Regions from separate parts of the Homo sapiens genome. Here region 2 is linked to region 1. A link means that fine-mapping ties the variant in region 1 to the expression of a gene that starts in the linked region. Tissue or cell type: whole blood. Region 1 holds a variant in brackets; the other region holds the start of a gene. All regions are shown on one strand. Distances are between the middles of the regions. Region 1 overlaps JARID2 (jumonji and AT-rich interaction domain containing 2). Region 2 holds the start of JARID2-DT (JARID2 divergent transcript).

The links.
Region 2: it holds the start of JARID2-DT, and the variant in region 1 is fine-mapped to the expression of JARID2-DT in whole blood (INTERVAL, PIP 0.92).

The regions. Positions count from the first base shown.
Region 1 is chr6:15,259,469-15,275,673 of GRCh38, reverse strand. The region is part of intron 1 of JARID2 (jumonji and AT-rich interaction domain containing 2); the gene reads right to left. Among named protein-coding and RNA genes, the nearest start is that of JARID2-AS1, 19 kb to the right of the region's middle. RefSeq lists enhancers at 6,074-6,631, 6,632-7,190, 7,191-7,748, 7,749-8,307, 10,302-10,441 and 1 more. The variant C/T (reference allele first, on the strand shown) is at 8,711.
Region 2 is chr6:15,237,827-15,254,031 of GRCh38, reverse strand. It overlaps JARID2-DT (JARID2 divergent transcript), which reads left to right and starts at 8,658. Exons shown (of 1, transcript NR_187237.1): 1 at 8,658-10,109. JARID2 (jumonji and AT-rich interaction domain containing 2) reads right to left here and starts at 7,963. Exons shown (of 18, transcript NM_004973.4): 1 at 7,448-7,963. The coding sequence starts at 7,492. It overlaps JARID2-AS1 (JARID2 antisense RNA 1), which reads left to right and starts at 5,336. Exons shown (of 2, transcript NR_120502.1): 1 at 5,336-5,522; 2 at 5,888-6,217. RefSeq lists enhancers at 1,617-2,392, 4,081-4,922, 7,886-7,985, 8,096-8,145, 9,335-9,848 and 2 more and silencers at 5,111-5,590, 5,711-5,770, 8,756-9,015, 9,026-9,335.

The sequences.
Region 1 (16,205 bases):
CACTATTTAATAATGTAACGCCATAATCAACTGCAAGTCCTTGAACTTACATTATGCCTTTCTACTGGGATACTCATGTAATTTCAAATGTATTACTGTAAAAACCTGGTCATTGAAGAGGCAAAAGACGGGGGGGGGGGCGGGGGGGGCGGTAAATGGACTTTAATTAAAATGTGAATAATCCAAGTCCAGCTAATTCAAAGCATCTGACTTGAACACCTAGTCAGCTGGGAAACAGCAGCTGTTTCCAATTACAGGTGACTGTGAATTAACCGGTATCAGTATCTAATGAAGAAGCTGTGTATGTAGGAAATTTTCCAATTCTGGAAGTACAGCTGTGCACATGGCCTTTGTAAAAAAGGAAACACCAAAGATCCAAAACCCTGTCTATGTAACCTCCTTTTAGGTCAGGACAAAGTTTTCCAGCTCATTCCTGTCTTTGCTACTGACCCCAAGAGCCAACTGTTCCATGTTCAAGAGGGTTTCTCCACTCTTGAACCTGAGCCCAGAAACATTTTGCAAGGAGAGATCAAACAGCTCTTCCTGCTGCCCACACACCTTCTCCACTGGTCCGAGGTTGTCACCCCAAGTCACAGAGATGGAGGTAACCCAACAAAACAGAGGTTTTTAATCCTATCACACAAAATGGGAAACCAGAAGGGCTCTTGAAGTTCAGTGACCTCCTCAAAGCTAAAAGCGCAACCAAAACCTCCTTTAGTCTGGAGGTGCTCACTAGCCTCCAGTGGAGAAAGAACATTCCAGAAGGCTGACCAGCTTCTTTCTAACTGCAGGTGGAGCTTTAGACCATCAGATTGTCAGTGGCTTTTTAAGAATCCCACTAATATGCACAAGGACTAGAAGGAAGAATCAGGAGAAAACTGGGAAAGGGGGAGTGGATACCTCTAAAGTCTCCTTCCCAGGCTGAACCAAAGACTGAAGGTGCCCAGGATCACCACCAACAAAAAAACCCAGAATCAAAAAGAGGCCAACACAATATTGCCCTGGCTAAGTCACCCCTTCACACACAAAAAGTCGAGGTCTGAAATCTCCCACTCACCTCCTGGGCTGCTATATAAGAAGCCACTCTGGAAACATCACTTATTTGCCTGTGTTAAATTATCTGAATGAAGGAAAATAAATTTGGATCTGCAAATGCAACAGCATGCCAAATTGCCCTTTTCCCACACATTTCCTCTTTTACAAATAGAGCATGTTTCTTCAGAACAAAATACTAAATAATGCATATAAATGTTTAGTTTTTCTCTGTAAAAATTAAAAACAATCCCATTTCTCTAGCAGATAAAAATGCACCAGTGTCTTCATATGCCTACCTCTAAAGAACCACAAAAAAACATTAAAGACATCCCCCAAAACTATCTAAAATGAAAAGGGACAAATTTCCTTAATGCCCCCCAAAAACTCCTTTTTCAAAGATAGAGAAGCAGGCCAGGCACAGTGGCTCACACCTGTAATCCCAGCACTTTGGGAGGCCAAGGCAGGAGGATCACCTGAGGTGAGGAGTTCAAGACCAGCCTGGCCAAAACGGTGAAACCCCGTCTGTACTAAAAATACAGAAAATTAGGCAGGCGTGGTGGCGGGCGCCTATAGTCCCATCTACTCCGGAGGCTGAGGCAGGAGAATCACTTGAACCCGGGAGGCAGAGGCCACAGTGAGCTGAGATCGTGCCACTGCACTCCAGCCTGGGTGACAGGGCGAGACTCCATCTTAAAAAAAAAAAAAAAAGATATAGACAAAATTTTTCAGAGAAATGCAGAAGGGAAAAGAAAATGGAGCAGTATGTTCTTCAGTGAGTATCCCCAAGAATGACACCAATCTTTAGGTGTCATTTCATTCCATCTAGGATCCTGACTCAAAGCCAGGGTCCTACTAATTTACAACATTTCGAAAAATCGTGCTTCAAGAAAACTACCCTGAGAAACAGCTGTTTTGTTTGCTTGTTTGTTTGTTTTTTGAGACAGAGTTTCGCTCTTGTTGCACAGGCTGGAGTGCAATGGCACAATCTTGGCTCTCCGCAACCCACAAGTCCCAGGTTCAAGCGATTCTTCTGCCTCAGCCTTCCAAGTAGCTGGGATTACAGGCATGCGCCACCATGCCCAGCTAATTTTGTATTTTTAGTAGAGATGGGGTTTCTCCATGTTGGTCAGGCTGGTCTTGAACTCCTGACCTCAGGTGATCCACCCACCTTGGCCTCCCAAAGTCCTGGGATTACAGGCGTGAGCCACCACATCTGGCTGAAAAACAGTTTTTTAAAGAACACAACCATTAGTTGAAAATCATTCCCTTGGTTTTATAGTTTGTCAAGGAAGAAAATATAGCAGGGACAATTGGAAAAGAGATTATATGTGCACATCCCATGTGTACATCATTTGGCTATTAAATTCAGGGTATGTTTACAGAGAGCCCCGCTAAGTGTATTCAATAGCTCACAAATAAAACTCAGGTATTTTAAAATAAGGGTAGGGGAGACCACTACATGCAACTGCGATGTTTCCAGGCATAAGGCATCCTCCCCACCCACATGAGGAAACTTAGCACGTAAAAAATGAGGACCCAACAAAATCTAGTAAATGCCATATGCTGAATCCCCTAACTGCTTTCTCTATAGATGGCAACTTACTAGGCTTTATTTTGTAGGTTGATAAGAAAACACAAATATAACCTCTTAACCTAACTCCAGGAAGAAAAATCATTAAGATTGCTAATTTAACATTTTAGAGAATGATTTTTAAAGAGCCAATGGGAGCAGGGAGAAGAAAATAAACTTAGTGACTATGGCAAGAATAATAAACAAAATCATAACAACAAATAAAATGTATAGCCAGTGCCACGCAAAATTGAGTGGCCCAGGTACTATAATTATCACATCCATTTTACAGATAAGAAAACTGAGGCACAGAGATTGTGACAGAGGCAGGCTTCAAACCCAGGACTATGGCTGCATAAACCTGAGGTAATACCACCTTCCAGGATAGTGAAATCAAACACAGGCTCCAAAGTGAAACATCCTGATTTGGGGTCAAGTAGTGGTAGGGGGGTCCAACCCTGGCCCCTTTACCTGCTTTGTTTCCACAGCTGCAATTTGGGGGAAATGGCTAAGTCACAGAGTTGTGGTAAGAAGTGAATACGTAAAATGCTGTCTGTGTAAAGCATTTAGGGTAGGTATACATTCAATCAATGGTAGCTATTATCCAGTAACAACTTCTCTTTTTTAAAAACTATATAAGCTTTCAAGGTGAGTTCAGGATAGAAACCAGCAAAACAGTAAGAGCTCTACGCAGAAATTCCTGACACTGCTCTTTGTCTACTAAAGCAAGACATGGAAGCTTTGGGAAGTACATGATAACACTATGCAGGCAACGCATTATAGCTAGCTGTCTTCCTTCCAGAATGAAAACTGAAGAATGGTCTTCAGAAAGGACAACATAGAGGGCCACGGGGCCAAAAGATGCATTTTCAAGCAATGCTCAAGCCTTACAATTGCATCACTGTTTTTGTTTTTTTGTTTTTCTGCTGTTTTTTCGTTTTTTTGAGACAGAGTCTAACTCTGTTGCCCAGGCTGGAGTGCAATGGCACGATCCTGGCTCGCTGCAACCTCCACTTCCTGGGTTCAAGCGATTCTCATGCCTCAACCTCTCCTGAGTAGGTGGGACTACAGGCGACAGTCTCGCTCTGCCGCCCAGGCTGGAGTGCAGTGGCATGATCTCAGCTCACTGCAACCTCTGCTTCCCAGTTTCAGGCGATTCTCCTGCCTCAGCCTCCCGAGTAGCTGGGATTACAGGCACACACCACCACGCCCAGCTACTTTTTATATTTTTAGTATAGATGGGGTTTCACCATGTTGGCCAGGATTGTCTTTAACTCCTGGCCTCAAGTGATCTGCCAGCCTCAGCCTCCCAAAGTGCTGGGATTACAGGCATGAGCCACTGTGCTTGGCCCGCATCACTGTTTTTAAACATCTTTATACTGTAGGAGAGTGTCTCTTCAGTCCCTGCTGGTTCAGAAAAAGGTGAGATGAGGTCTCACTATTGTTGCCCAGGCTGGTCTCGAACTCCTGGGCTCAAGCAAGCCTCATGCCTTGGCCTCCCAAAGTGATGAGATTACAGGCATGGGCCACCACATCAGGCCTGGATCTTCTATAACAATAGTTTTCAAACTTCTGTTGGTAGCAGAGATCTTATTGGGAACCCTACCCTTCGATGCTCAGGTTGGGACAGAGATGTGAGATTTAAAAAAGAAAAAAGAAGCGAACCACTGCACCAAGAACAAAATCAGTCCCAAAGTCTTGCTACACGAAGTGTAGGCCCTGAGAGTTTGTTAGAATGCAGAATCCTAGGCCCCACTTCAGTCCTGCTGAATGAGGAGCTGCATTTTAACAAGATCCTTGTGTGATTAGAACCCACTGGCCTCAAGCCCTCCTGAACCTCCCTTGGTCCCAATCCTGCATGCCCCCTACACATGTCCCTCCCTACCACCTGAGAAAACAATCTCCAATCGGACAAGTATACAAAGTAGACAATAAATATTTGTAGAACTAAAATGAAATAAAATGAAAGGCTACAAACTTCTGAAAGACAAAAATCATAGCATTCTGGAGGGGAACTCTGTGTTCCCATCACACAATACTTGCAGCTAAGGAAAACAACTGTGGGAAAGCAAAGTGTGGGATTTGCCCAAGGTCCCACAGTTTTTTCTTTTCTCTCCTTTTTTTTTTTGAGAGGGAGCCTTGCTCTGTTGCCCAGGCTGGAGTGCAGTGGCAAGATCTCCGCTCACTGCAAGCTCTGCCTCCTGGGTTCATACCATTCTCCTGCCTCAGCCTCCCAAGTACCTGGGATTACAGGTGTGCACCACCATAATTTTTTCTATTTTTAGTAGAGACAGGGTTTCACCATGTGGCCCAGGCTAGTTTCAAACTCCTAGGCTCAAGTGATCTCCCCACCTTGACCTCCCAAAGTGCTGGGATTACAGGTGAAACCACCATGCATGGCCTCTGGTCAGCTTTTTCAAGGCAGAGCAAGAACCTAAAGGAAATGCCAACACCTTAATAACACAGTCACTGCTAAGTCCAAAGGTAGAGTTTCAAGTTCTGGTAACCTGACATGACTCGCAATCATAACCCTTCCTAAATAAAGTACCCATTCTATGCCTGTAAAATGAGGGCAAGGGATTGCAGCTACCTAACCAATAGGATCAAATACATGAAGACCAAGAAAAACCCTGAGCAGGCCAGGTGCAGTGGCTCGTGCCTGTAATCCCAGCACTTTGGGAGGCCAAGGCGGGTGGATCACCTGAGGTCAGGAGTTCGGGACCAGCCTGACCAACATGGAGAAACCCTGTCTCTACTAAAAATACCAAATTAGCCAGGTGTGGTGGCAAATGCCTGTAATCCCAGCTACTCCGGAGGCTGAGGCAGGAGAATCGCGTGAACCCAGGAGGTGGAGGCTGCAGTGAGCCAAGATCACACCATTGCTCTCCAGCCTGGGCAACATGAGTGAAAGTCCATCAAAGACGGAAGGACGGACGGACAGATGGACGGACTGAAGGAAGGAAGGAAGGATCGACCCTGAGGCAAATCATTTCATCAGTTACAAGTGCTAGGATCTACAGAAAGACTAAGAAATGAGTATGTTCCCTTTGTATACAACCCTTGTGTTAATATTCTTTATGAAAAAACAAAAAACCTCTACCAATGTCTGCATATAATTACTCAGGAAAGAAATGACAAGGTTGCAGCGAAGCTAACCAATTTCCCAGCAAAACTCAACTTGAGACCATGTTTACCAATCTTCAGTCTGTCAAGTAAATTCTAAGTATCCTTCCTGGGGATCCCATCCAAGTCACTTCTGGACTCTGTGGTCTATATAGCCAGTAAAAACACTGCAGACATACATAAACACTGCCTGGATATTCTTTGCAAATGTTTGTAAAGGCTCCTAGACAAAGAAACTGGGCCAGGCAAGGTGGCTCACACCTGTAATCCCATCACTTTGGGAGGCTGAGGTGGGATGATTGAGGCTAGGAGTTCATACCCAACCTGGGAAACAATGCTAGACCCCATCTCTACCAAAAAAAAAAAAAAAAAATTTTAAAATAGCCATCTCTACAAAAAAAAATTAAAAATTAGCCAAGTGTGGTGTCATGCACCTGTGGTCCCAGCTACTAGGGGGTGGGGCAGGGAAGGCAGGAGGATCTCTTGAGCCCAAGAGTTCAAGGATGCAGTAATAAGCTGTGATCACACCACCACACGCCAGCCTGGGCAACAGACCCTGTCTCTTAAAATAAAATGTAAAAAATGCTGAAGGTTCAAATACTATTGAAAGATTAAAAATCCAACTTTAGGAGGCAGTTATCGAGTCAGAAACTTCTTTCCGCCCCCCCCAACAAGAATGCTCACAGCCCAGTGGCCTGGTCTAGGGACTAAGGGTGGAGCACAGGGAACAGGGCACTCAGATTAGGAGGTTTTACAGAGGCCTGGGAGGAGACAGAAAGCTATTTAACGGTTTTCCTCCTCCCTCAAGAAAGGGGCAACTACCTCACCACTGGCAAGCATTTTGAGGCCACCAAAGACATGATGGTTCAGCACATCTTTTGATAAATTCTAGGACATTCCCCAAGCACACACCAGACAAGTAGGCCTTTAAATTTCCTAACGAGAAACAGGCACTGGCATTTCCTACCTTGCCTGCCATGGGCACACGCACACGCCTGACTTTAAGAGGTTTAACAAAAGAGTTAGAGCCCCGAACTTCCTTGACTTTAATTAAACTTGGCTTCCACTTCTGAAAAATCCTGAAGTTTTTATTTTGTTCTGTAGTCTCACTAATGCTTTTAAATGAGAGATGCTGTGAAAAGGAAAAGCAAATTCTTTGCAGCTGCGTGTGAGCATTCTGCCAACTGAAGCACAGGAAGAAGCTCTCCCATGTTAAAAATTTCCAACTGGGAGATTTACAAAACAGCAGGGGAGGATGGATGGGGCAGAGGGAGACGTGTGCATGTGAAAGAGCTGCAAAAAGCTCCCTTTTTTGTGTTCAAGTCCCAGAGGCCTTCGGAGGCTTGTCATGCTTCAGCGATTGCCACCCCCTCCCATTTTACACCCCTTCCAAAGCCACCGTCCTTTCCATCCAGGCTTTCGGATATAAGTACACATTCTGCAGAACCACTTCTTAGCTGTTCCTTTATTTTACCCCCATCTCCCCAGGCCGCCCCAACACTCATTCTGCCATAACTGGATAATGGAAAGAAGCTTAACAGGGAGGTAGCAACCATTTCCCTCTGACTAAATGAAGTCCTGGCGTTAAGCTGCACTCCTCAGGAGGAAATGACAAGCATTTTGGCAAATGAACTTTTTTGTTTTCTATTAGCAGCAGCAAGATATCCACTGTTGACAACAGCAAAAGTTCACAAAGATAAGCTTCTAGGCTGTGTTTTTAAAGCTCTTCGGAAAATCTAGCTCTACCCTTACGAAAAGCCAATTTGGTCAAAAATGCTGTCAGAAGGGTTTGGAGGTTTGGTTTTAAATTTCCATATTAAGTGATGGGGTTTGGTCTTTTCAGAGAAGGAAAGAGTCACCACACTATCACAATTTCTAGGAAGCAGGCATGCACATTAGGTATGGTGTCCCACTGTCGTCCATCACCTATCCCCTGTTCTGGGGTGTGGGGTTGTCCATACTATTAACCGATCCCCGCCGCAGTTAAGCCTTAGGAGTTGCAACCCCACAGCATCCTCGGGGGCTGCTGATGTACACTTCATGGAACCAACTTTCTTCTTACTAAATCCTCCGCTGAATGCAGTTTTTTCTCAGGGCCCCAAGCAACACAAACACATCCTCAGGAGTGCAGGTAAAATATAAACCCTCTGGGGATCAGCATGCACACCACCCAAAAACCCCCTACTGCATATCTACAGAGGTGCACAGTAACAAAGCACTGGCAGACAGACAGGAAGCACTCCATAAGGTCCTCGGGAACGCAACCATTGAGTTCGCGCGTCACACCGGACTTCTGAAGACAGGACAGCCAAAAAATATCCTTCATAAGGAGTTAATGCCATGGCTTGAAACAGTCAACCAGAAAATTCACTAGAACCAGCTTACTCCATTCCCAGAGCATTCAGAGTCTGTCTACATGTTACTATAATTTGAAACCTGATTCTAAGAACATCCTTGTACCTAGGCCATTTCACAACTGATGCTCTTGCAGAAGGTATCGGTTCCCTCCTGGGCACCTACTGCTGTTTATAACCAGTTGGTTAGGCTTCAGGATCCTTTCCTGGTGGTTGCTGACATGCCTTTTGCTGCCCCTCAAGCAGATCTTTGAGCTATCTCTATGTAGATAAAAGGAAAGGCCTCACTCTGTCTTATGTCAGATACTGATAAGCCGCTTTAAGATTTTCTTTTTCATGGGAGTGGGAGAATAGTTTAGGAGAGTAAGAGAATAACACTCCAGGAAGCCCAGGGTCTCTTTGGACACTGTGTTCAGAGTTTCAGAGTGTTGAATTCACCATCTCTCCCCACAGCCAAAGAAGACAACTTAACTGTTTGCCATCCAGTAAGTTGCAATATGTCAGCATTAACCCAAACCCTCGATCACGCAGCTAGAAGCAATACTAATATACAGGTGGAAGAGAATGCCTACAATGAAAGGGGCACAGTTGTGCCTATTAGAGCACCTAATCTCCACTCAGGGACGCA[C/T]GTGCACCCCACATTACAATGGAGAACACTGAGAATTTAAACCACGGCCTGGTGATCCTCCTGGACATGCAGCTAATAAGTGGCTGAGGGACAACCAGTGGTCAGCTGGCGCCCTGATTGTTATTACAGCAGTGCATTTTCTAGGAGGCAGGCCACTGGCGAGGTCTCCTGGGGTCATGAGATGACTCTGACATGAAATAACAAACACACACAATCAGATATGCGTCCACAAAGCTGTTTCTCACCCTGCCCCCAAAAAATGTTTAAACATTGAGAGTGTAGAACTTTCAAGCTACCAAAAGAAAATGTTTTGCCTTAAAATGACAAAAAAGCAGAAGAAACTTTGATGAAAGATTCCTAAAACTCAAAATATACTACAAACACCCTAGCCAGGAGAAACACGTTGAGCAACGGAAGTGCAACCAAGCGCTGCTAGGCTGACAACAATGACCATGAAACTGCTGTTTCCTTATGAGGCCCTGCAAATTAGTCCTTCCCCCAGCGGGAGAGGATATGGAGCTCACGGTTTGCTATTTTCCTTTTCATTACTACTATTCCAGGGTGCAGGTAAGAAAGAGAAAGAGAAGGAATTTGGGAAGACGTTAAGAAGTAAAACTCTAAACTATTACTTATGTTGTTTGCTCTCTGTTGGAAGATCATTGTAACTAATAGTTAAAATATACTTGGCAGAGACCGTGCTAAAAAGCTCTTTAAAAGAGGGGCCATACAAGGATCCCCAAACTCTGCTTAATCAGTACCAACACCACAGGAGATTCATCGGACACACTTGTCTTCCTGGGCTCCAGAGACTTCCTAAGGTAAAATGGGAAGACACAAATGTCTCCAGGAGAGCATATGTGACAGTTCTTTGAGAGAAAGCTGATCAGTATTGACCTTTAATTTGGAGACACTAAGCCTCGTGCCATCTCTTTTATGAATATGAGAGAGCACTTTGGGACCTTTTCCAGCTGGGAGGAAGGAAGCACAATTATTCACCCCCGTTGGCTAGGAGACCTGATGAGCTCCACTTTCAAAACCGTAACAGACCAGCCACCGCCCATGCCCTCCAGTTTCCATGAGGCAGAGACCCCTGAGTGGAGAAGGGGTCTGAATGTAAATGAGGGAGGGGCTGGGACAATCCCACACTATCCTGTGAATGACCATGATGCTGGTCCCAGATTCCTGCTTGCCCAGTCCAAAAGCAAGTGAACATGCTGCCCGGGCTCATCAGGTCCCTGGGGAAGAGGGTCACCTTACACTGTTAAGACAGCATTCACGGAGAGCCCTGCAGAATACTCCTTAATTGCCTGGAAAGTGACCTGTCCAATGGGGCTTTCCTGGCTTCTTGGCTGCCAGCCAAGAAGTAGCCTTAACTTCTGTACCCATGGGGAGAGATGAGGGCAAGTCCCAAAGCAGTATCACTTCACAAAATAAATCTCACAGAGCCAAATCTGGAATGTTACTGCACAGATATTTGAAATCCCAGCTGACAGTCCTATACCTATTTGGGGCTGGGAGGATGATTAAGGCTTTAAATCTCAATTACACTTATGGAACTCTAAATGACTGCGTGGTTTTTTTTTGTTTTTTTTTTTTTAATGCAAACCTAAGTTTGGGATGCAGAACTACAGAGACAAGAACTCAGCAAGCACCCCCACTTCCTCCAAAGAGTAGTCAAGTCCCACAGCACAGCCCGGAGCAGTAGCTGTTAAAAGACAAGGGCTGGGCTGGATCCGGCCAACATTACAAGGACAACCAACTGGTCTCATTCCTTAGTCTTGTGCTTTTAAAGGGCAGACGATGTGCCAACTATTTTAAAGCTCCAACACACTAATTCTGTAAACAATAATAGCTACAGCCTGCACACTGCGCACTGGAATGGATTCCTCAACTTGGCCTCATCACTTATGCAGCTGATGAAACAAACACTGACAGCTTTTTTGCATTTGTAAAGGCCCCACAGCAGCTGTGGTGATCCCACCATAGAGCAATGAATTAAGCCTGAAACCCAGCTGGGTCTGAACAGAAGCCTTTTTTGCACAATACAGCAAGACTATCATTGTTAACCTAGGCATTATTGGGAAATATTCTGCATTACATTATAGGGCAGTTCTAACTCAATTCTTAAAATTAGCTCTAATAAGCAATTTTAGTAGGAGGGATGTGGCGTTAGCCTTTGAAAGGCACAAGTATGTGTATAGGTTATAGGTACACCACATAAAAGCGGCCCGGCAGAACACAGATTTCCAGTTAAACAATGCAAAGTTTAAAATATTAACTCCTTCTTAGATATTCTCTCTCTCTCTCTATCTCTCTCTCTCTCACACACACACACACACACACACACACACTCACACCTACCTTCTAAACTGAGGTGGGTGTCTAAACTAGTAAATTCTTGGCTACTTGGCCACTGCAGAGAAAAATATTGAATATAGCTGTCAGGGCTCCTGTTAGTAAGCCAAACTAATGACCTGAGCACAGGAGTCAATTTGGAACAGAAAACCATACCAGAAAAACTGGAGTGTGAGAAGCATGATTAATACCATTAGTAAAGAATTTTTTGACAATGACCTTGAGCACTATGAAATAAATAAGATTCCAAATACTGATTAATACCATCAGTAAAGAATTTTTTGACAATGAACCTGAGGACTATGTAATAAACAAGATTCCAAATACTGACGGACACACTGGTGTTTACAGGCTTCTTATCATCAGGAAGTTCTAGGAAGGCAAAGACACCCACACCAAGACATGTGCTCCTACAGAATCGGAACACGCACTCTCTGCTTCACAAAATGCTTCTCAATACCACTAGGCCACATGACATTTGCAGTCCCCACCATCCACTTCTCTTATGTTGCCTTACAGTTTTTCTAACAATTAAAAATTGCCTGAAATTAGCCAGGCATGGTGAAGCGCAGCTCTAGTCCCAGCTACTTGGGAGGGTGAGGTGGGAGGATCGCTTGAGCCCAGGAAGGTTAAGGCTGCAGTGAGCTGCGTTCACGTCACGGCACTCCAGTTTGGGTAACACAGCGACACCCTGTATCTAAAAAATAAAAATTGCCAGCCGGGCACGGTGGCTCACGCCTGTAATCCCAGCATTTTGGGAGGCCGAGGCAGGCAGATCACCTGAGGTCAGGAGTTTGAGACCAGCCTGGCCAACAAGGTGAAACCCTGTATCTACTAAAAATACAAAAATTAGCCAGGCGTGGTGGCGGGTGCCTGTAATCCTGGCTACTCTGGAGGCTGAGGCAGGAGAATCACTTGAATCCGGAAGGCGGAGGTTGCAATGAGTGGAGATCGCGCCACTGCACTCCAGCCTGGGCGACAAAGTGAGACTCTGTCTCAAAAAAAAAAAAAAAAAAATTGTCTGACTCTAGTTAAGGACCAATCTCAACAATTTCACACCAACTTGGGGAAAATAAATCTAGTAAATTCAGAGAAATCAAAAGAATACAGTAACATCCCTCCTCCTTTGAAGAACTCCTATTTCTTAATGGAGTTCATTACGAAGGGTAGTTTTTCAAAGAAAAATAAAAACCATTTTTGGTTCAGCAGGCTTGGAAGGAGAAGAAAATCAGGGATAATTTCTAGGTCATTCTACTCCCCATAGTCCTCTGCCAAAGAATGCTGACAGAGGTAACCACAAGAAAGTCAAAACCTAAGGTAATGCAGGAAATCTGAAGTCCCACCATCAAGCCACTGGAGCATATGATTCCAGCACAAGCACGTGTGACCAGTGTTTACGGTTTGCAAAGGGGTAGAGGAAATGAGACCACTCTTGGCCACCCACAGTGACATGGAGAGTGACAGGCAGTAAGGAAAATGAGGACCCCTACCACACACACACACACACACACACACACACACACACACACACACAAACACACACCCTCCAAAGGGCAAGCTAGAGCCCCAGAAGGGGAGGGCACAGCATAGGACTCTGCTGAACAGAGCACATCACTTCAGAGGCATGAACTGAAACACAGCTTAATGACAGAAAATAAATTTAGTAGTAATACGTATAAGCACGCTTTTCTAACAAGGTATTCCAAGAGAAATGCAAACAAATCCACACAAAAACCTCCACACAAACGTTCACCGCAGCATTGTTCAAAATAGCCAAACGGGCCGGGCACGGTGGCTCACGCCTATAAATCCCAGCACTTTGGGTGGCCGAGGCGGGTGGATCATGAGTTCAAGACTAGCCTGGCCATCGTGGTGAAACCCCGTCTCTACTAAGAATACAAAAATTAGCCGGGCGTGGTGGCGCACACCTGTAATCCCAGCTACTCGGAAGGCTGAGGCAAGAGAATTGCTTGAACAGGGACCCGGAAGTGGAGGTTGCAGTGAGCCAAGATTGCGCCACTGCACTCCAGCCTGGGCTAGAGTGAGACTCCATCTCAAAAAAAAAAAAAAAAAAATAGCCAAACCATAGAAACAACTCAAATGTCCATCAGCTGATGACTGGATACACAAAGCATGATACATCCATACAATGGAATGTTATTCAGCCACAAAAAGGAATGAAGTACTGATACACACTCCAGCATGAATTTTAGAAACATAATTTTAAAAGACACAAGACACAAAGTCCACATATTATATGATTCCATTCACATGGAATATCCAGAATAAGCAAAAGCACAAAGACAGAAAATGATTCGTAGGTGTAAGAGGCTGGAAGAACTGGGGTGAAGATCACTTGAGGCCAGGAGTTTAAGACCCACCGAGGAAACACAGCGAAACCCCACCTCTATAAAAATTTTAAAATAAGAAAATTAACAGGCAAAAAAAAAAAAAAGGCATGAGATTCTTCATTTATACATACCTTTTCCATGTCAGTGCCTACTCAGACAAAGTCAAAACCATCCCCTGGGCCGGGCGCGGTGGCTCACGCCTATAATCCCAGCACTTTCGGAGGTTGAGGCAGGCGGATCACAAGGTCAGGAGTTTGAAACCAGCCTGACCTGCACGGTGAAACCCCGCCTCTACTAAAAATACAAAAAATTAGCCGGGCATGGTGGCGCGCGCCTGTAGTCCCAGCTACTTGGGAGGCTGAGGCAGAATTGCTTGAACCAGGGAGGTGGAGGTCGTGGTGAGCCAAGATTGCGCCACTGCACTACAGCCTGGGTGACAGAGCAAGGCTCCATCTCAAAAAAAAAAAAAAAAATCCCTGAATTTGTATATAAGGTATACAATATACAGTAGGACGTAGTAGGGAGTACAAAAGTAAATTCAGTATTCCTTATCAACTTTAGAAATCTTTTAACACTCAGCAAGGAGGATTACTTGCTGCTGATGGCAGAAACCACATTCCTTAGAAGAGAAAACACCAGGCCGGGCGGGGTGGCTCACGCCTGTAATCCCAGCACTTTGGGAGGCCAAGGCGGGCAGATCACAACGTCAAGAGATGGAGACCATCCTGGCAAACTAACATGGTGAAACCCTGTCTCTACAAAAAACACAAAATTTAGGTGGGTGTCGTGGCGCACGCCTGTAGTCCCAGCCACTTGGGAGGCTGAGGCAAGAGAAGCGCTTGAACCTGGGAGGTAGAGGTTGTTGCAGTGAGCCAAGATAGCGCCACTGCACTCCAGCCCAGGCCACAGAGCAAGACTCCGTCTCAAAAAAAAAAAAAAAAAAAAAGAAGAAGAAGAAAAAACACCATCCAAGGCCTTCATAGACCGTATATAATGCCTGTCCTGAAAAACAAGCTGTTAATGCCTGAGCAAAGTGACATCGTCCTTTCTTTATTGGGATGACCTCCATGTACAAAGGGAGTAGTAATAGGACTCTTCTTACCATTAAGGTCTTCATTTGTATTAAAGAACTGTAAGCAAACAATGTTTGGCTGTAAAAGCTTTGCAAGTCAAAGATAATGGCCTTCCTTGGTAAACTGACTGTTCTTTATAATCATCATTATTTATACTCCCAAGAGGCTTTTGCCTAATGCTCCAATAAATTCTGGAAAGAAATAACATGACAATTTCAGCAAGTCTCATGGAAGAAGGCAAGGGAAAAAAAGGCTACTTGAATAGAAAGTGTGTTTCATCCTGGGGTATGTCAGTGTTGGGACAGTGATCACATCGCTTAATTAGAGCAAGGAGTACATTTAGAAGAAAGAAGAAAAAGCCACCACTTTTTAGCTTCAGGTATTTCCAAGTGAAATCTATCCTCCCCACCTCCCAATGCTTTCCAGCTTACCAGGGCCAAAAGAAAACCCATTTTAATAGCATCATTAGAGTTTTGATTTATCACAAGTACAGAAGAGCGTGCAGTATTGCACTCCTTATCTCATCCAGACAAGAACTCCATTGAACATGAAGCTTTGCAAGTTCTTATTTGTACCAGGAGTTTCTGCAGAACTAATTGATGGTGTTTATATTGAGCTGGTGTTTATATTTGAGACAAGTATTTCCCGACCTCTTCAACTATGAGACTTGGCCCATGGCTTAGATATGCCCAGAGCCCAGACTCTGGGACACTTAGGCAAGCCAAATATGTTCTTTATTTAAAGGAGGTTTCCTTTCCCTCTGTCAGCCACCTTTTAGATTCCAGCTAAGTTTAAACCACAATGGTTTGGAATCCTAACAGTAGTTTTGAGGATTACAATACAGAATGAGTATTTCAAAACATTTTTAAAGACACAGAACACTGAATCATGCAGTAACACCCACCAATCGCTCCCCTCAAAGTAAGTCAAGTTCAGAAGTTCACTATTAAATCCAGACCCTCCCAAATCCAGACCCTCCCTGGCCCCCTGCACTGTGGAAAAAAGTGATAAACTGCATTGGTATTTAAATAAAAATCTGATCTCTGCCACTCGAAGATGTAATCATCACTGGGGATTACTTTCATGCATCTTTAAAATTCTTTCAGATTAAAAGATCTGTCAGAGTGTCAATACCAATACTATTAAGCAAAACTTGCCTTTACTTAAAGTTTTAGGTCAAGACCTCAAACCAAAAGCAAAAACACTGCCAGGCCCAAACACTGCTGCATTGAGATGAATGAACAACTACTCTGCTGTCCACAGTTTAATCTGACTGTCCCTTTTTTGCATTTGGAAAGTGAACTTGAGTCAGATCTAAGTAAAAATTATTTGCTCCTGGAATGACAGCTCATCGTGGCTTTAAAATCCTTTTTTAGAATGAGGGGCATAAATACATAAATATATAAAAGTAACCCCCATCAAAAAAATGTAACCAGCTAGGAGTCCCAGTGAGAAGGCTGAACAGTGGTTAAAACTGAACGTTAACCAAACCCCACTAAAATAACCTCATCTCCCCAACATACCCATCTAACCCCTGTCCTAAGTGCAGATGAGCGAGCCCTAGCAAACATTTTATGATCTTCAAAAGATTAAGAAGCCAAGTCCACCATTCTTTTGGCATCTCTCAAAGCCAGTGGCATTTGCCACTCCAAATCATCAGTTTGAGAAGGAGATGTGGCATTGTGTATAGGGTCCAGCCTGGTGCTGTCACAGCTC
Region 2 (16,205 bases), 22 kb after region 1:
AGGCTGCCAACAGTCCCTTTTACAACCTTTTCTTCTCCCCTTTTTGGGGCTCCACTGATCGTTCATGTTACTTCTATGTCCTCTGAACTCAAAAGGGGGGAGCAAATTCAGAAAACTAACCATCTGACTGGTTTTTCACCTTACTTGTCTCATCTATAAAATGGACTCAAAAACCCCTTTTCTCAGACAAACTCACAATGTAGGCGGTTATTTCAGAATTGACTGAGTCCTCTCTTCACAATCCCGTTAAGAGAAGTGGGTGTTGTGTCGTCATCTGGAGGTGTTTTCTATAATCCATGCTTTTCTGGGACATTTCTTCAAATGGAAAAAAGAACCCCAGTAGAGGTGGGCAGCACCCTTAAAATAGTAAAATCTGTGGCAAGACAAACTGTGGTACAAGTGTAAAAAAAAAACCAGAAACCCAGAGTGGTAGTCGAGCTGCCAGTCGCTGCTCACGCAGGAATGATCTATACTTTGCCCTCTGGAACAATCTGCGTGGGCTCTTTCCTACAGCCTAAGAGAGCAAGAAAGACAAAAGCCACCTGCAAGAAGTGACAGGAACAGGAAGTCCTGGAAACATGAGTCTTCCACCAAGAGCAAAATGACAGGTCAGCTCCACTTTCGATAATTTTATTCTGAATCAGAACTGCATTTTAAAAATCCTTATTTGGCCAGGCACGGTGGCTCACGCCTGTAATTCCAACACTTTGGGAGGCTGAGGTGGGCAGATCATGAGGTCAGGAGTTCAATACCAGCCTGGCCAACATAGTGAAACCCCGTCTTTACTAAAAATACAAAAATGAGCCGGGTGTGGTGGCACACGCTGGTTAGTCCCAGCTACTCGGGAGGCTGAGGCGGGAGAATAGCTTGAACCCAGGAGCTGGAGGCTGCAGTGAACAGAGACCACGCCACTGCACTCCAGCCTGGGTGAGAGAGAGAGACTCCTCTGTCTCAAAAAAAAAAATCCTTATTAAAAAAACCTGAAGCTGGCAGAAGGTTATAGGATTGTCTGAAGTCCCAAGAAAGATTAAAACCTAGAAGGATAATGAGAATAAAATCTCGCTCACTCTTCTTCTACAAAAATGTAGACAGATACCACGGAGTTCTCACCTCCTAGAATAAAAGATGCCTGCAAGGGTGAGGCAAGTATGGAAAAGGTTTATGGACAAAAGGAATCAGAAAAACAAAGACTGGGGGCCTGGAAAAGCAATTGAGGCTTGTCTTAGGGAGTCACAGGATATAAAGAGTACAGTTATCTGGAGGACGGAAAAAAAACGAAAGATAATTGAGCACATGAAAAAACAGATTCATTTGGTTTCATTTTTATTAACAGGTAAGGCTTAAGGATTTAAAATGGAACAGACCTTCCACAATATCTCATAAGTAAAACAATATATAATTAAAGTTGCCAGATTACAAGATAGAAGCTTCTGAACTCCATGAATTAGGTGCAAAATTACTAATCTTTCTGCTCCCTGCCACTCAGTAAATGGCACAATTATTTTAACTCCAAAAGTAATACAATCACCTCAGTAGGACTACTTTAAACTGATCCACACTTTACATGTTACATGGCATGAAGCAGACAGGGAGTCCAGTTTAGCATGCGGGGATTAAGGCTAAACACAGTTGGAAGCACTCTTATCAGAGATGACAAGAACCAGAAGTTGGTTAGTTAATGGGAACAAGTTTGTTAGATAACAAACAATTTTTAAAAAAAAAAGGTATTCCCTAACATTTTGTATTAACTGACAGACAAATCTACTTTTAATTACGGTTTTTTTGATATGAGGCCATGGGTCTTCTTTCTGAGCTTAAGTCTCTGAACGTTCTGTTGTTCTACATTATGCTGTTTTGATTGTTGGGGAAGTCTGGGCATAACTGAAGTTTGGTTCTTAAAAGGGAATCACTTGCAAAGCAATGTGTGTGGACAGTCCTTTCAGATTTTCCCAAACATCTTAAAAATGTCTGGCCCACATTTTTTTTTGAATGGAGTCTCACTCTTTTGCCCAGGCTGGAACGCAGTGGCAGGATCTCAGCTCACTGCAACCTCCGCCTCCCAGGTTCAAGCGGCTCACTGCAACCTCCGCCTCCCAGGTTCAAGCGGCTCACCGCAACCTCCGCCTCCTGGGTTCAAGTAATTCTGCTGCCTCAGCCTCCCGAGTAGCTGGGATTACAGGCATGCGCCACCATGCCCGGGTAATTTTTGTATTTTTAGTAGAGACGGGGTTTCACCATGTTGGTCAGGCTGGGCTTGAACTCCTGACCCTCATGATCCGCCCACCTCAGCCTCCCAAAGTGCTGGGATTACAGGCATGAGCCACCACGCTCTTTTTCACACTGTTTCAAGGTTGACATAATACTTAACTGTAATTACAATAATAAGCCCAACTGGAATAACCAGATTTGGGAACAAACAACTGACACTTGGCAAGACTTCTGGGTGAAAGCCAAAGGGGACAGAGGTACATCCCAGAGGTGGCCAGGACCTGTATCCTGGGATATCAGTCAGGACATACTGCAGCCAACAGGGCAAGCAGGATGGGTAGACAAAAGGTGGTTAGTAGAGCTGCTACTACTGTAATCCTGGGGGAGACGTGGACCAGTAACATCAGGATGATCAGAGCAATGCAGCCAGAATTCAGACAATGTCAGGAGTGTGAGTCCTCACACCATCATGAGCAAGGGCAAACCACTAGCTTAAAAATGTTCAGCTGGCTGGGTGCAGTGGCTCACGCCTGTAATCCCAGCACTTTGGGAGGCCAAGGCGGGCAGATCACCTGAGGTCAGGAGTTCAAGACCAGCTAGGCCAATATGGTGAAATGAAACTCCATCTCTACTAAAATACAAAAATTAGCCGGACATGATAGGGGGTGCCTGTAATCCCACCTACTCGGGAGGCTGAGACAGGAGAATCGATTGAACCCGGAAGACAGTGGTTGCAGTGAGGAACCACTGCGTTCCAGCCTGGGTGGCTGAGCAAGACCCTGTCTCAAAAAAAAAAGGAAACAAAAAAACAAATGCTCTCTAGGTTAGCCTTCACCAAGTGTTTTAACGAACTACGCTTTTAATATGACATTCTCGTGTCTTCTCTGAAAAAAAAAAAAAAGTTCCATTTTGAAGGTAACAGACACCAATTATATACTCCAAAAGATTGTCTTGTTCTGAAGGAGGAAAGTTTAACATTTGGAGTACGGTATATATTAACACTGGAGTTATTTCCAAGGCACTTGGAAGTGCGTCAATAGCCTTCAGCCCAGCAACAGGGACTGGTTTAACCCACTATGAGGAAACAGGCATTACCGAGTACCAAATAATTCTAGTTGTCTATTTGGGCCAGTGGCTACAGGGACACACAAGTTAGGTATTAGCCTACTGTAAAATAATATAACCTGGATAATAAACCAAGTTGGATTACTTGTCGACATAATTTTTCTTTCAAATTTTAGTGACACTTTGGACTTCATTGTGTCTTCCTTCCATACTGTCCCTGTACAGTGATAGGAGCTAAACTGCCACTGCCCTGCACCTAAGTAACACAGAGCAAGATTTTCCACTACTAGAAACAAGTAACTGAAAAGCCACGTAAACATCCCAGGAAAGAAAAAATACAGCAATAAAATAACGTGCAAATTTCCCCACCACCCCACCAACTGTAAAATAACGTGACTGAACAATTTGTGATGAATAAGTTTTAAAACAAAAAACCTCATAAATCCAACCACTGTATATTTTGTGTTCTTCCTACTTTTTTCTTTGTAATTTTACGTAGTTGTAATTATAGTAAATCCTTTTGAAGCTTATAACAAAAACTTTTTCCAATTTTTAAATCATACACTTTCAAATCAGAAAATTAGATACTTAAAACTTACAGCCTAGTGGTACAAATTCTGCTTGAGCTGTCCTAGAAAATCAAACTGGCAATTTGTTTTCATGCTAACTACAGGAATTACTATCTTCATAAGGCAGAGATTCTCTATTTCAAACTGATACCTGATCAAATAGTGGTGAAGCCCCAGTATCCTATCTGTTATTCTCCCTAGGAATAACCAGGCAGTGGAATGATGGAAACGGCAGAAAATATCTCTAGAGCAAAACATGCAACTGTTTTTATTGTCCAAGTCGATTGGGGCTTTCAAAGGCAAATGTTTTCAGTTATTTAAGGTATTGCAGTGGGAGTCGTGCTCAACACAATTAAGACAGGATTACACTGCAACTTATGAGTTTCTCAAGGACATCATTTATTACGAAATATAACAATCATTTCTCCCAAAGCCTACTATCGACAATCGCACCCCCAACTCTGCTTTGCTAAGGTAATAAACTAAATGGCAACTCAGCAGGCATCCCGGGCTTTTGAGACCAATTGTGGGAAACGTGCTGCCTTCCACCAGCTCAAGTAATAATGCCACCTTACTTATAAAGAGGCATACTGTTTTACATCTTCCATGCACATGATCTTTTCAGTGACTTAGTTAAGTGGCAATGGCAGGTATTTTTCCATTTTACAAAAGAGAAAACAGAACGCCAGCCTCTGGTTTCCCTGCTCAGAAGAACTAAGCCCAGAGCACCTTGAGACTTAAAGGAGTCCTGTGCTCTTCTCAGTACATTTATCAATGACAAGTCTTCCTTTGGTCCAGCCCCCCAAAATAACAGTCAGTAGGTACAGAGCCGGCACAGCAAAGGAAAGCCCCCCCACCGTAGTACCACAAAGCTTCCAGAAAGAGCAACAGTTGCTGCTGTGCAGCATCATCATGAAAGGCATCCGGCCACATCCTGCTGAAGCACCCCTAACACGACTTCAAGTGACAAGGTGGCCAAATCCACAACGCGGTCCTCCAACAAAGCACAGCTTTCCCTGAATACTTTCATTTCTTTACATAAGCACTGGAGAGGGGACACATGCACCACGCTAGTAATGCAACACCATCAGGAGACCTGGAACAGAGGAAGTGAAAACATTCCTGCAGAAAGGAGGCGCCTCCTCCCCGCTCCCCGCTTCCCAAGTGGCATCAGAACAGGGTCCAGTGGCACTCCTTTGGGGACCTACGGCTCCCCGGCCCTCACCTGGTGGGAAGCGCGACGCTCCGGAGCGGAAGGCAGAGGCCGAGCGCATCTTCCTCCTCTTCCTCCTCCCACGCCGCAGCCCGGCTCTGCGGCAGCCCCCGCCCCCGCCCAGCTCCCTCCTCCCCCCGCCGCCCCGCCGCGCCTGGAGCCTCCCGCCCGACTTTTGACGTCACGGAGGAGGAGGGGAAGGTTCCACCCGAGCCCGTCCCTTTGTGACGTCACAATGACAACAGAGTGCGGCCGGGAGCGTCGGGGAACCGAGCGCCGCGGGGGGCGGAGGGAGGGAAGAAGGGCTGGGGCGCCGGCGCGCGGCGGGGGAAGAACCGGGGGGCGGAGAGGGGGCGCGCTGACGTCTCGCCGGCTTAACCTGTTGCTCTCGAGACTGCGTCGGAGCCCGCAGGCAGGGCCGCGGGAAGCCGGCCGGGCCGCCGCCGCCATGCTCGGCCGTGTGCGCGGTGGGGGGCGCCCGCTGCAGCTGTGCGCCGCGCGCCCCCTCCCCGGCACGCCCACGCCCCCGCCCCCGCTCCCACCCCCTCCCCGCGCGCTCTCCCCTCCCCGCGCCCCGCAGGCCGCGCCACCCCCGCGCCCCACCCGCCCTCCTGCCCGCCTGCAAGCCGGCCCGGGTAGACCGGTGCCCGCCTCGCGCGCCCGCCTAGAGCCCGGAGTATGCCCCCTATAGGCCGCGCGCGCGCGCCCGCCCGCCCAGCCCCGGCCCAGCCTGCCGCGACCCCCGCGGGCCGTCCCTTTCGCAGCCGGCTCGAGGACGTCGGGAACACCGGCTCTGCTCCCGGTGCATTAACTCGTGCCGTGCCTCCCGCAGCCGCCGCCAGCCACGGGCTTGCAGCCGGACGCCCGGACTCGGAGACACGATCCGCTGAACGCCCGCAATAAGAAAGAAAACCCACCCCACGCTGCTCTCCACCTCAACGAGGTCCGGAATGGGAGGCGGGGTGCGGTTCTCGTCCAAGTTCTACCCCATTTGCTTTGTGGCTGCATCCGAAACGGACGTGCCCCGGGAAGGCGTCCACGCTCCAAGACAAGGTTGCCTCAGTGCAGTTTCTACAGCCCGAGTTTAAACTAGTCCTTTGCATTCTACCCAGCCCTCTGCAATGCGGATGTATTTTAATTCTTAAATTCTTTATGGAACAGCTTTCTAAGTTGGGCTTGATTATTTAACCTTGCATTTCTTTCATAGTTGAAGTTGACGTGTCTAGATAAGGATCAGCTCTCTTGAAGAGGCATTCAGCTTTTCCATTAAATATATTTTTTTACAAAACCAGTGCCCCGAAGGTCATCTCTCATTACACACACCACAATGATCAAAAAGGGAAAATATTAACACCAATTTGTCTACCCAACTTAAATAAACTTTCCTCTTACGTTGCATTATTCCTAAGGTATGTTCATTTGGCCTTTTTTGAAAAAAAAAAAGAGTTATTTAATTTAAAGCATGCAGCTAATCACAGATCACTCGAGTGCATATTTGGTTAATCCCTCGGTCCCCCTTTCCTCCCTCCCCTCAAACTTAAAAAAAAAAAAAAGCCACCACACACAAAACAAAAACACTCCCCATGCCAATCAAAACGTAGCTGTACTATGCACAAAACAAATTTAACTATTCCAAGCCATTTAAATCTAGGAATAATCACCCAATTTCAGAAGCCCAGTTAACAGGGAGAAATTATTTGTAGTTACTTACATATGCATTCACGTACACACTTAAAAACATTAGCCATAGTGTGTGTCCTTTTCCCCTACAACTGGAAACCATGAATTTTTTAAACAAAACCAGCCTCATTATTAAAGTCAATCCCAACAAATGCATTCGCTGTAACATGATTCCCAACTGGTTTATGTTGCAAACCAGATAAGCCAAAACGACCACAGACATTAAATTTGATGTGCCAGTGCAAAGAGAAGATCGCCATAATCGGACCCTCGATCGCAACTTAAAGGGCTTCCAACACACATGCGTTACACGATTTTTCCAAATAACATTAATAATAATAACACAGGCTCATTTGCATGCAAAGTGCAATACGGGGCCAAATCCGCTTGAGAATGCAGTTTAGTTACATTACCGCAGCCACCCCCCACCTCAAGCTCCACCAAAATCCCTTGCCTTTCATCTAAAAGTAGATTATGGTTGTGTCATTCGAGGTCAATTTATTCACTTGAGGTATCTCTACACCAGTCTGTTTTTTCAACCAAACTAGGCAGACACCACTTTGCTTGAAAAGCCCTCTTTCAGAAAAAAAAGAAACAGCCTTATCGGACGCTGTGTTTAAAACCCTTCAGAGGCAGAATTATCTATAAACTTGACATTCACAGCCATTGCTTAAAACTGCAAGTCAAAGGATGTGTTGTTAGGAGCACTTACGTATTTCTTCTGAATGATATTCCTCTTGGGTCTTTCCTTGCTCATTCTGAGATCCAAATGCTGATTGCAAAAGGGGACAATTGCTTCATGAATTTAAAGCCGTCAGAAATTTGCAAAAAAATATCCTGGTGGTTTTTATTGTTGTTGGTGGTGGTTGATCTTGTAATCCGACTTTTCTTCCTCTTCCCCCAAAGCCAGATTCGCCTTGAAATAAATCCGAAATTGGGAAGGAAAAAAAAAGAGCCAAAGACGAACGAAGCAAACAAAAAAAAATTCACTTTAGTAAAACACTCATAATGGAAAATTTCCCCCGAAACACATACACACACACACAAAAAAAAACCGACGCCCTTCACTCCCCCCCCTTTTTCCTCCAAAAACTACATCAGCGAAACGTGAAGGTCCTTAGTGTCTGATCCGTAGTTACATCTTGGAAAAGAAAAGGGAAAGATAAATAAAAAATGTTGGAAGTCACGTTTGTGCTGCAGCAGCAGTGCGAGCAGAAGAGTCAACTCCAGCGGCGGCGGCGGCGGCGGCGGCAGCACCACAGCGAGGGCTCGCCGAGTCTCTTTTTTCCAAGCCCCCTAACCAATGAGAGAGAGGCTATCCAGCCCAACTTTAAATGGACTCTGCTTTTATACAAGTTAGGGCTCCTCGGATAATTCCCCGCCGGGCGCCAGCCGAAAACTCCCACCGCTCAGCCGCCAGGCGCCCGCTTAGCCTGGTGCCGACCGCCCCTGGCCCAGTCCAGGGCACCCCCGCAGCCTGGCCAACCAGACACCCGAGCGACCTCGACGAACCCCTCCCAGGCAAGCCCTCGGGCGTCGCTCCCACGCCGAGCCCAGGCGTGGAATTGAGAGAGGCTCCCTAGCTCAATGCATGGCACGCTCCGTCGCTCCACCTCACCCCCTTTCCCCTGCCTGCCGCTCACCCCACGGCCGCCCCACGCCAGCCCCCGCCACTGCCTTCGCGTCTACCTGCAGCCGGGCTGCTGGGTAGGAGTGCCCCAGGACGCCCGGCCCCGGGGAGAGCCGCCTATTCCCGGGGCACCTTAGAATGGTCCCCTTGATCTTCTGGAAGTTGTAGTCCCCCGACTACAAAATGGCTATGGCCACGGAAGCTGGGAACTACAATTCCCAGCCTGCCCCGCAAAGCCTGTCACTCAACTCCCCTCCCTCCTCCTCGCCCCCTCCCCCTCACTGGCCGTGCCAACAAACGCTTGGACGTGTCCCGCGTGCGACACTGCTAGAGGCTGGCTCGGGATTGGCCCGCGGAGCGTGTGGTCCGCGAGCGAGGAACTCCCCACGCCGGCCCTCCTCCGCCCCCCGGGCCCCGGCCCCCCTCCCCTGGCGGCCGCCAGCCCCCTCCCCGCGCGCCCCGCCCCCACCCGCGGCGCGAACCGCCTGTGGAATCGAGGAATCGCGCGCGTGCGGCCCGGAGCCGCGGGGGAGGGACGCGAGGCTTCCCCGGGGAAGGCCTCGGAGCGTGGCGGTGAGGGGGGCGGTGTCAGGGAGGGGTTGGAGCCCGTCCTAAGGAAAACTGGGCCACGCACCAAGAGGAATCCTCGGTGCGAACTAGTTGATCGGCGGCGCCTGCTGCTTGTGCCGTGCAGCCGGTGTCACCTCAGGACAGCGCCTCGCGTCTGTGTACAGAGCGTGCTGCGGGCGCCTAGGGTAGTCCGAGGTCACCCCTCTCCGCGCCCCGCAGTCGCGCACGCCCCCACGCGCGGGGTGGGCGGTGGCCGGGGGTCGCCGAGTGGAAAGGCCACGCCCCCCCACGCCCGGGCTCGGCACGCTGCCCCTGGGTCGCGAACGCGCCTCCGCTCGACCCGCTTGGAGGACGTCGCTGGTGGCCCAGGAGTGAAGCCCCGGCGGCTGCCTCCTGAGAAAAGATAGCCGTGTTTAAAGAGACTGAACGGGATCTTTGCTTTGCCGGGCGTATTTTGTGATAAAATACCACAAAATGTTGAGACAAAAATGAGTGGAATATGGAGACCGAGCCGCACAGACACGCAATTGTAAGGAAACATCTCGAACACCGAGTGCCAGGAATATCAACTGTCCGGGCCACGCAAGAGCCTGCTTTTTACCTGCCTCCAGCCCCCTGTCGTGCTGGTTTAATCGCTGAAACAAATGAAGTAGCAGGCCCTGGCATAGCGCTTTGGGCCTTCGCCTTATTAACAACTTTGTCAAGTCTCGCATCGCGATTCTGCCTTGTTAATTTCCTTGTTTTTCGCTGTGGTTTTGGAGAAGCAATGTTTTCCATGATCTCTCAGGCTAGCCTCGGAATAAAACGTGGCAGAAGCGCTCCCGCGAACACATACCCATATATTTTATTCTACCTATTCCCTAGAGTCTGCTAACTTCAAAAGTCTAGATACTCACACAGCTGTTTACTTGCAGCAGTATTTGAAGAGATAACCTTGGTGTCTAGAAAGGTCTCAGAAACTGGAGGTAAGAGACCTGGATTCAAATCGCGCCTTGGCCACTTCCCAAAAGGCAACCGAGAGCCTCTCTGAGCTTGTCAGTTTCCGCATCTGCAAATTAGTGGTGATCAAACCTGTGGGGATGATTATGTGATAAATAACAGTAACCTAGTTTAAAACTAGGCACGTTATTGGAAGCTTTCAGTAAACGAAATAAAAAGCCTTTTCGAGAGGGTATTTTCCTTATTATTTTTACCTTTTCAAAAAATCTGAAATGAAATAATTTTATCTAATGTTCACTTCACAATTGGAAAAATAAATGATCTTTTGTGCCCTGAATACTGCAAAACTTGTACGCTGGTGCCATTTCCTGGGAAGGATCCAATGGGGCAGACTACAGTAGGGCCACCCAAGGTGTTTTCTAAAAACTTTCTGATCATTAGGACTGGCATACTGGGAATCTCCACGTCTCCACGTTGTTAAGATTTTAACCAGCTTTCTGTAAGTTTAACGCAGATACCTCATTCCCTAGGCAAATATTAATGAACAAAGGTGAGTTTCTTTTCTGTTCCCCTAACTAGCCCTGGGGCCTGGACTTCTCAGTCCTGGGCTTGCGAACTCCCCTGCCAGGCTACCAGCTCCAGGTCACCTGGTGTGAAAAACTATTGTGTAAAGTTGAGGCCTCAGGGCAGAGGGGAAAGGAAGGAATTTGCTCATTTCCAAAAGATTTGAATAATATTAGTGTTGTTTTCCCTGAAAGAGAAAAAAGGTTGGCCTTCTTAGTGGTTGAAAGATTTTCCTGTTGTGAAAGTAACCTACTCCTAATGAACTTCCTTCCCCTACCATCTTGGCAAGACCATCCAAGGCTTTTCTTGCTCCTTCCTCCTCTTTTTCATTTTCTGTAAGTCAAATGCAGCTTTTCTTATGATGATTTTCACATCTCAAAGCCTTGACCTCTTCAATTGGAGGGGCAGGGATGAGAACATGTCTAGGTACATTGATTGTATTAGACTCTATGCCAGCACTGTCCTCATCCCTGAGGACACAGGAAGCTCACAGCTCAGTAAAAAAAAAAAAAAAAAAAAGGCAGAGTTTACAATGGATTGTGATACCTCCAAAAAGTACTATATCAGCAATGTAGAAAAGAAGCTAAAAAGAACACATTGCTGAGATGACTAGGTGTTAAGGAGTTTTGAAGTAGGTGTAGGGGTTCACATACATACTTAAAGAAGTGCATATTTCACCCCTTTGCATTGCATCCTATTTGTTTACATTCTCCACTTTTAATGTTTCTAGTTCTTCTCTCCAAGTAAAAAGGAAATTCCCTAAAGAGATGATGTTGTCTACTTCTCATACCCTCCAAAGCTCCAAAAACTTCATCAAATTTGAAAGATGTCCAGTAAATGCTTACTGTTGAATATTTCACCAAAACTATAATGCCCAACTATTTAGACTATTGCCCAACATTTAGTCTCCTACCATCATCTTCCATTCCATTCTGGAACTCTGCTAGTTTTCCTCTTGCATTATCTAAATCCAATGTAGTGTTATACGTTCTTCAAGGCCCCAAATTCAGGCCCATTTCCAATCCAGCCTCGCTGCTTGGCCTACTCATTCCTGGATTCTCATTGCCCTTCCTATTTTGGCAATAATTTTTGAGCTTTAAAATTTTATTCTGAGGCCGAATGTGGTGACTCACATCTGTAATCCCAGCACTTTGGAAGGCCGAGGCAAAAGGATCACTTGAGCTCTGGAGTTTGAGACCAGCCTGGGTAACATGGTGAAACCCTATCTCTACCAAAAAAAAAAAAAAAATTAGCTGGACGTGGTGGCCCAGGCATGGTAGTGTGCACCTGTAGTCCCAGTTACTTGGGAGGCTTAGGTGGGAGGATGGCTTGAGCGGGAGGCTGAGGTTGCAGTGAGCTGACATTGCACCATTACACTCCAACCTGGGTGACAGAGAAAGACCCTGTCAAAAACAAACAAAAAAAAATTGTTCTCTGTTGTATTTTTTTCTGATTATGTCATGTAAGTATCTTGTATCTCTTAATTGAAAATTGGATGGGGCCATGATTTGTCTCATATTGAGGCAGCCATTGGCAATGAGGGAATCAGATGTTTCTAATATTAAGTCTCTGAGTGACCATATGCCATTCACCTGCCTCATATAGGCCTTGGGTCTGTCATTTATAAAATGAGCAGGTTAGGCTGGGTGTGGTGGTTCACACCTCTAATCCTAGCACTTTGGAAAGCCAAAGCGGAAGGATTGCTTGAGCCCAAGAGCTCAAGACCAGCCTGGGTAACATAGCCAGACACCATCTCTACAAACATAAAATTAAAAATTAGAGGGTTAAATTCAGTTATTTCCCAAAGACATTTCTACACCCAACATTCTCTAGTCCTACCTTTACCTTTGTATTATGCTGCTTTTCCCCCTCAGTGCTGGCCCCTAAGTAAACTCAAATCCACAATCATTCAGTAAAAGTTGCTAGGTTAAGTTTCTTTACACTTGTATGTTATTAATTTCCAAAAAGACCTCATATTTATCCGAGCTATCTAATGATAGCTTTCATTTGTATAACTTTAATAGTGTTTAAAGCACACTGTCATAATAATTTCATTTAAACCATAAAACAACTTAGATCAAGACAGGTATTACTGTCCTCACTCTTCAAATGTGAAAATGAAATATTAAGAGGTTGTGATTTGCTCAAAGTCATACAACCAGTTGAGTGGATGAGCCAAGGGTCAAACTCAGGACTCTCGGCTCCACATACCCAGTGCAGGCCACCTCCCTGGTTTTCCAAAATGGGATTCAAGACATATGATTCCATGAAATGTTACTAGGTGGGACTGAAAAGAAAATAATTCTTCGATGAAATAAATTTGCAGACTGCTACCTTATAATAAAGATAACTCGATTACTTTACTGTAGGGTTTTTAGAAATCCCCAAAGGGGCATGTAGTTTTACAAACTAATTTGATCACAGAAATCTTTTTTTAAGAAAGAGCTGGACCTGGCCAGGCACGGTGGTTCACGCCTGTAATCCCAGCAATTTGGGAGGCCGAGGTGGGTGGATCACCTAAGGTTGGGAGTTCCAGACCAGCTTGACCAACATGGAGAAACCCTGTCTCTACTAAAAATACAAAATTAGCTGGGCGTGGTGGCACATGCCTGTAATCCCAGCTACTCTGGAGGCTGAGGCACGAGAATCGCTTGAATCCGGGAGGTGGAGGTTGCGGTGAGCCGAGATCCTGCCATTGCACTCCAGCCTGGGCAACAAGAGCAAAACTCTGTCTCAAAAAAGAAAGAAAGAAAGAGCTGGGCCGGGTGTGGTGGCTCACACCTGTAATCCCAGCACTTTGGGAGGCAGAGGCGGGCAGATCATGCAGTCAGGAGTTCGAGACCAGCCTGGCCAAGACGGTGAGACCCCGTCTCTACTAAAAATACAAAAAATTAGCTGGGTATAGTGGTGCACGCCTGTAATCCCAGCTACTCAGGAGGCTCAGGCAGGAGAATCGCTTGAACCTGGGAGGTGGAGGTTGCAGTGAGCCGAGATCATGCACTCCATCCAACCTGGGCAACAGAGCGAGACTCTGTCTCGAAAAATAAAAAAATTTAAAAAAACAGACCTTTTAAGTCCAGCCCCCAGCCCTCATTGCTTTTCCTAAATTGCCTCAGAACACCAAGGAAAAAAAAAGAAGAAGAAAGAGCTGGTTACCACGGAACAGTTTTACAGACATGCTTCACCCAATATGATGAATTTATGCTTCATAAATGATTGCTGACTGACAATAATTCCTACCTAAGTGACTGAATACCTTATGTGAAGTTTCTAATTTTATATAGGTCTATCTTCATATGTGAGGGAGTAAGGAGAGGGATGTAAAAATAATATTTGAGTGACATCAGGTTTATAAATAACTATGAACCAGTGTACTCAGAAGGTGGGGGCTTCCATTGAAAGAACATAGAACAGCTATTTCGAGCCAACTGAGATTTGCAAGAGTATTTTAAAACACACTAGGAGGTAAACTCAGATGTAAACAGCCCTCTTAAGAGTGAGTGATGTCAAGGAGACATTAGTTCTTTTTGTTATTCAGTGCTTCCTGTCCCCAAATTACAGTCTTATTTGTCAAGCCTCAATAAAATGCCACAGCACAAACCAAATACAATAAAATGATGCTTTCAACCCTACTGGTCGTCTGTGGACCTTGTTTATACAAGTCACTGAAAGTCGCTGGTACTTTGGATTGTGTAAAAATTTTGGACTATCATTACTATTCTGCTTAGATTGTCTTGTGTTATTGAAAGAGAGCTGGCCCTGATTCAGAAACTCTGGTAAAGCAGCCAAGACGGGAAACCTGCAGTTCCTAAGAATAGACGTTACTGTTTATAATAATACTGCACTCTGTGTTTGGTGGGAAAAATCAACTTTATCAGTGATCAACTAATCCACAGGGGATCAGTATGAGGAAACTGAGGTATAGGGATTACAGGGATCCTGTGAGTAGGCAGGGAAAGGGGGAGGAGCTGTATGAATCAGGATGCCTTCAGTTGCAGGTGAATGGAGCCCAGATGAAAATGGCTTATGGAAAAAAAGGAAGAGGGGCTTGGCTCACCTATCTGGAAACCCAGAGTCCGAGTTTCAGGGCTACAAAGGATGTCATCGTCCTTCCTTCATTCCTTCATTCTCTTTTTCTCTCCATTCATCTCAGCATTTCCTTCTTCTGTCATCCTCTCCAACCAGCAGAGATGATAGCGCCAAAGAAAACTCCTTTGCGGCCAGGCACAGTGGCTCATGCCTGTAATCCCAACACTTTGGGAGGCCGAGGCGGGCGGATCACTTGAGCCCAGGAGTTCGACACCAGCCTGGTCAACAGGGCAAAACCCCTCTCTACTAAAAATACAAAAATTAGCCTGGCATGGTGGCACGTGCCTGTAATCCCAGTTACTGAGGAGGCTGAGGTGGGAGGATCGCTTAGCCCAGGAGACAGAGGTTGCATGGAGCCGAGATCCCGCCACTGCACTCCAGCCTGGGCAACAGAACGAGACTGTTTCAAAAAACAAAAAAGAAAACTCCTTTCCCACCATGGACATGGCGGGTAGAGCAGATTTTGTTATCCAAAGGGGAGGGAGACAAACACTCCAGGGAGCAAAAAAGAAAAAAAAAAAAAAAAAATATATATATATATATATATATAGTCTACCACAGAAGCTACTAGTTCTTCCCTCTGTCAGGGCCACAGAAGTGAGCAGGAAAGGAGAAAATAACCTTTTCACCATCAGAATCCTAGAGATTCATTGGATGATAGACCAGTCCAGCTCAGTCTAGAGCTACTCTCTCATTTACCCCACCTTGCACACTTCAAGGTTTTCACAGACATGATCCCTGCCTAAATACTGGTTGATCTACGTATCAAACACTTTTGCCCATAGTTTCTTATCTATGAATCTATAGAATTTTCTAAACAAAAACAGAGCTTATCTCTTGCCAAATTGGGACATCTACAATTTATATTCTGTTTTCTGAAATCTCAGTGTTTCCAAAACCCAAGATTCACTCACACCTTACAGAAACCCAGTGCCATCTCCCTTTCCGATCCTACACACAGACACATAGAGTGAAACAGAAAAGATTCAAACATTGGCAGTTACATTGTGACTGAAACTTAGTGGATTATTAATTTCCTGCTTTTGGTCTTTCTCTCAATTGTCAAACATTCATTTTAAAAAAAAAATATTTTGGCCAGGCACGATGGCTCATGCCTGTAATCCCAATACTTTGGGAGGCCGAGGCGGGTGGATCACGAGGTTAGGAGATTGAGACCATCCTGGCCAACGTGGTGAAACCCCGTCTCTACTAAAAATACAAAAAGTAGCTGGATGTGGCGGCATGTGCCTGTAATCCCAGCTACTCAGGAGGCTGAGGCAGGAGAATCTCTTGAACCCAGGAGACTGAGGTTGCAGTGAGCTGAGATCACACCACTGCACTCCAGCCTGGGCAACAGAGTGAGACTCCGTCTCAAAAAAAAAAAGTGTTTTGGCCAGCCTCGGTGGCTTATGCTTATAATCCTAGCACTTTGGGAGGCCGAAGCAGGCAGATCATCTGAGGTCAGGAGTTCGAGACCAACCTGACCAACATGGAGAAACCCCGTCTCTACTTAAAAATACAAAATTAGCCGGACGTGTTGGCGCATGCCTGTAATCCCAGCTACTTGGGAAGCTGAGGCAGGAGGACAGCTTGAACCCGGGAGGCAGAGGTTTTGGTGAGCCGAGATCGTGCCGTTGCGCTCCAGCCTGGGCAACAAGAGCGAAACTCCGTCTCAAAA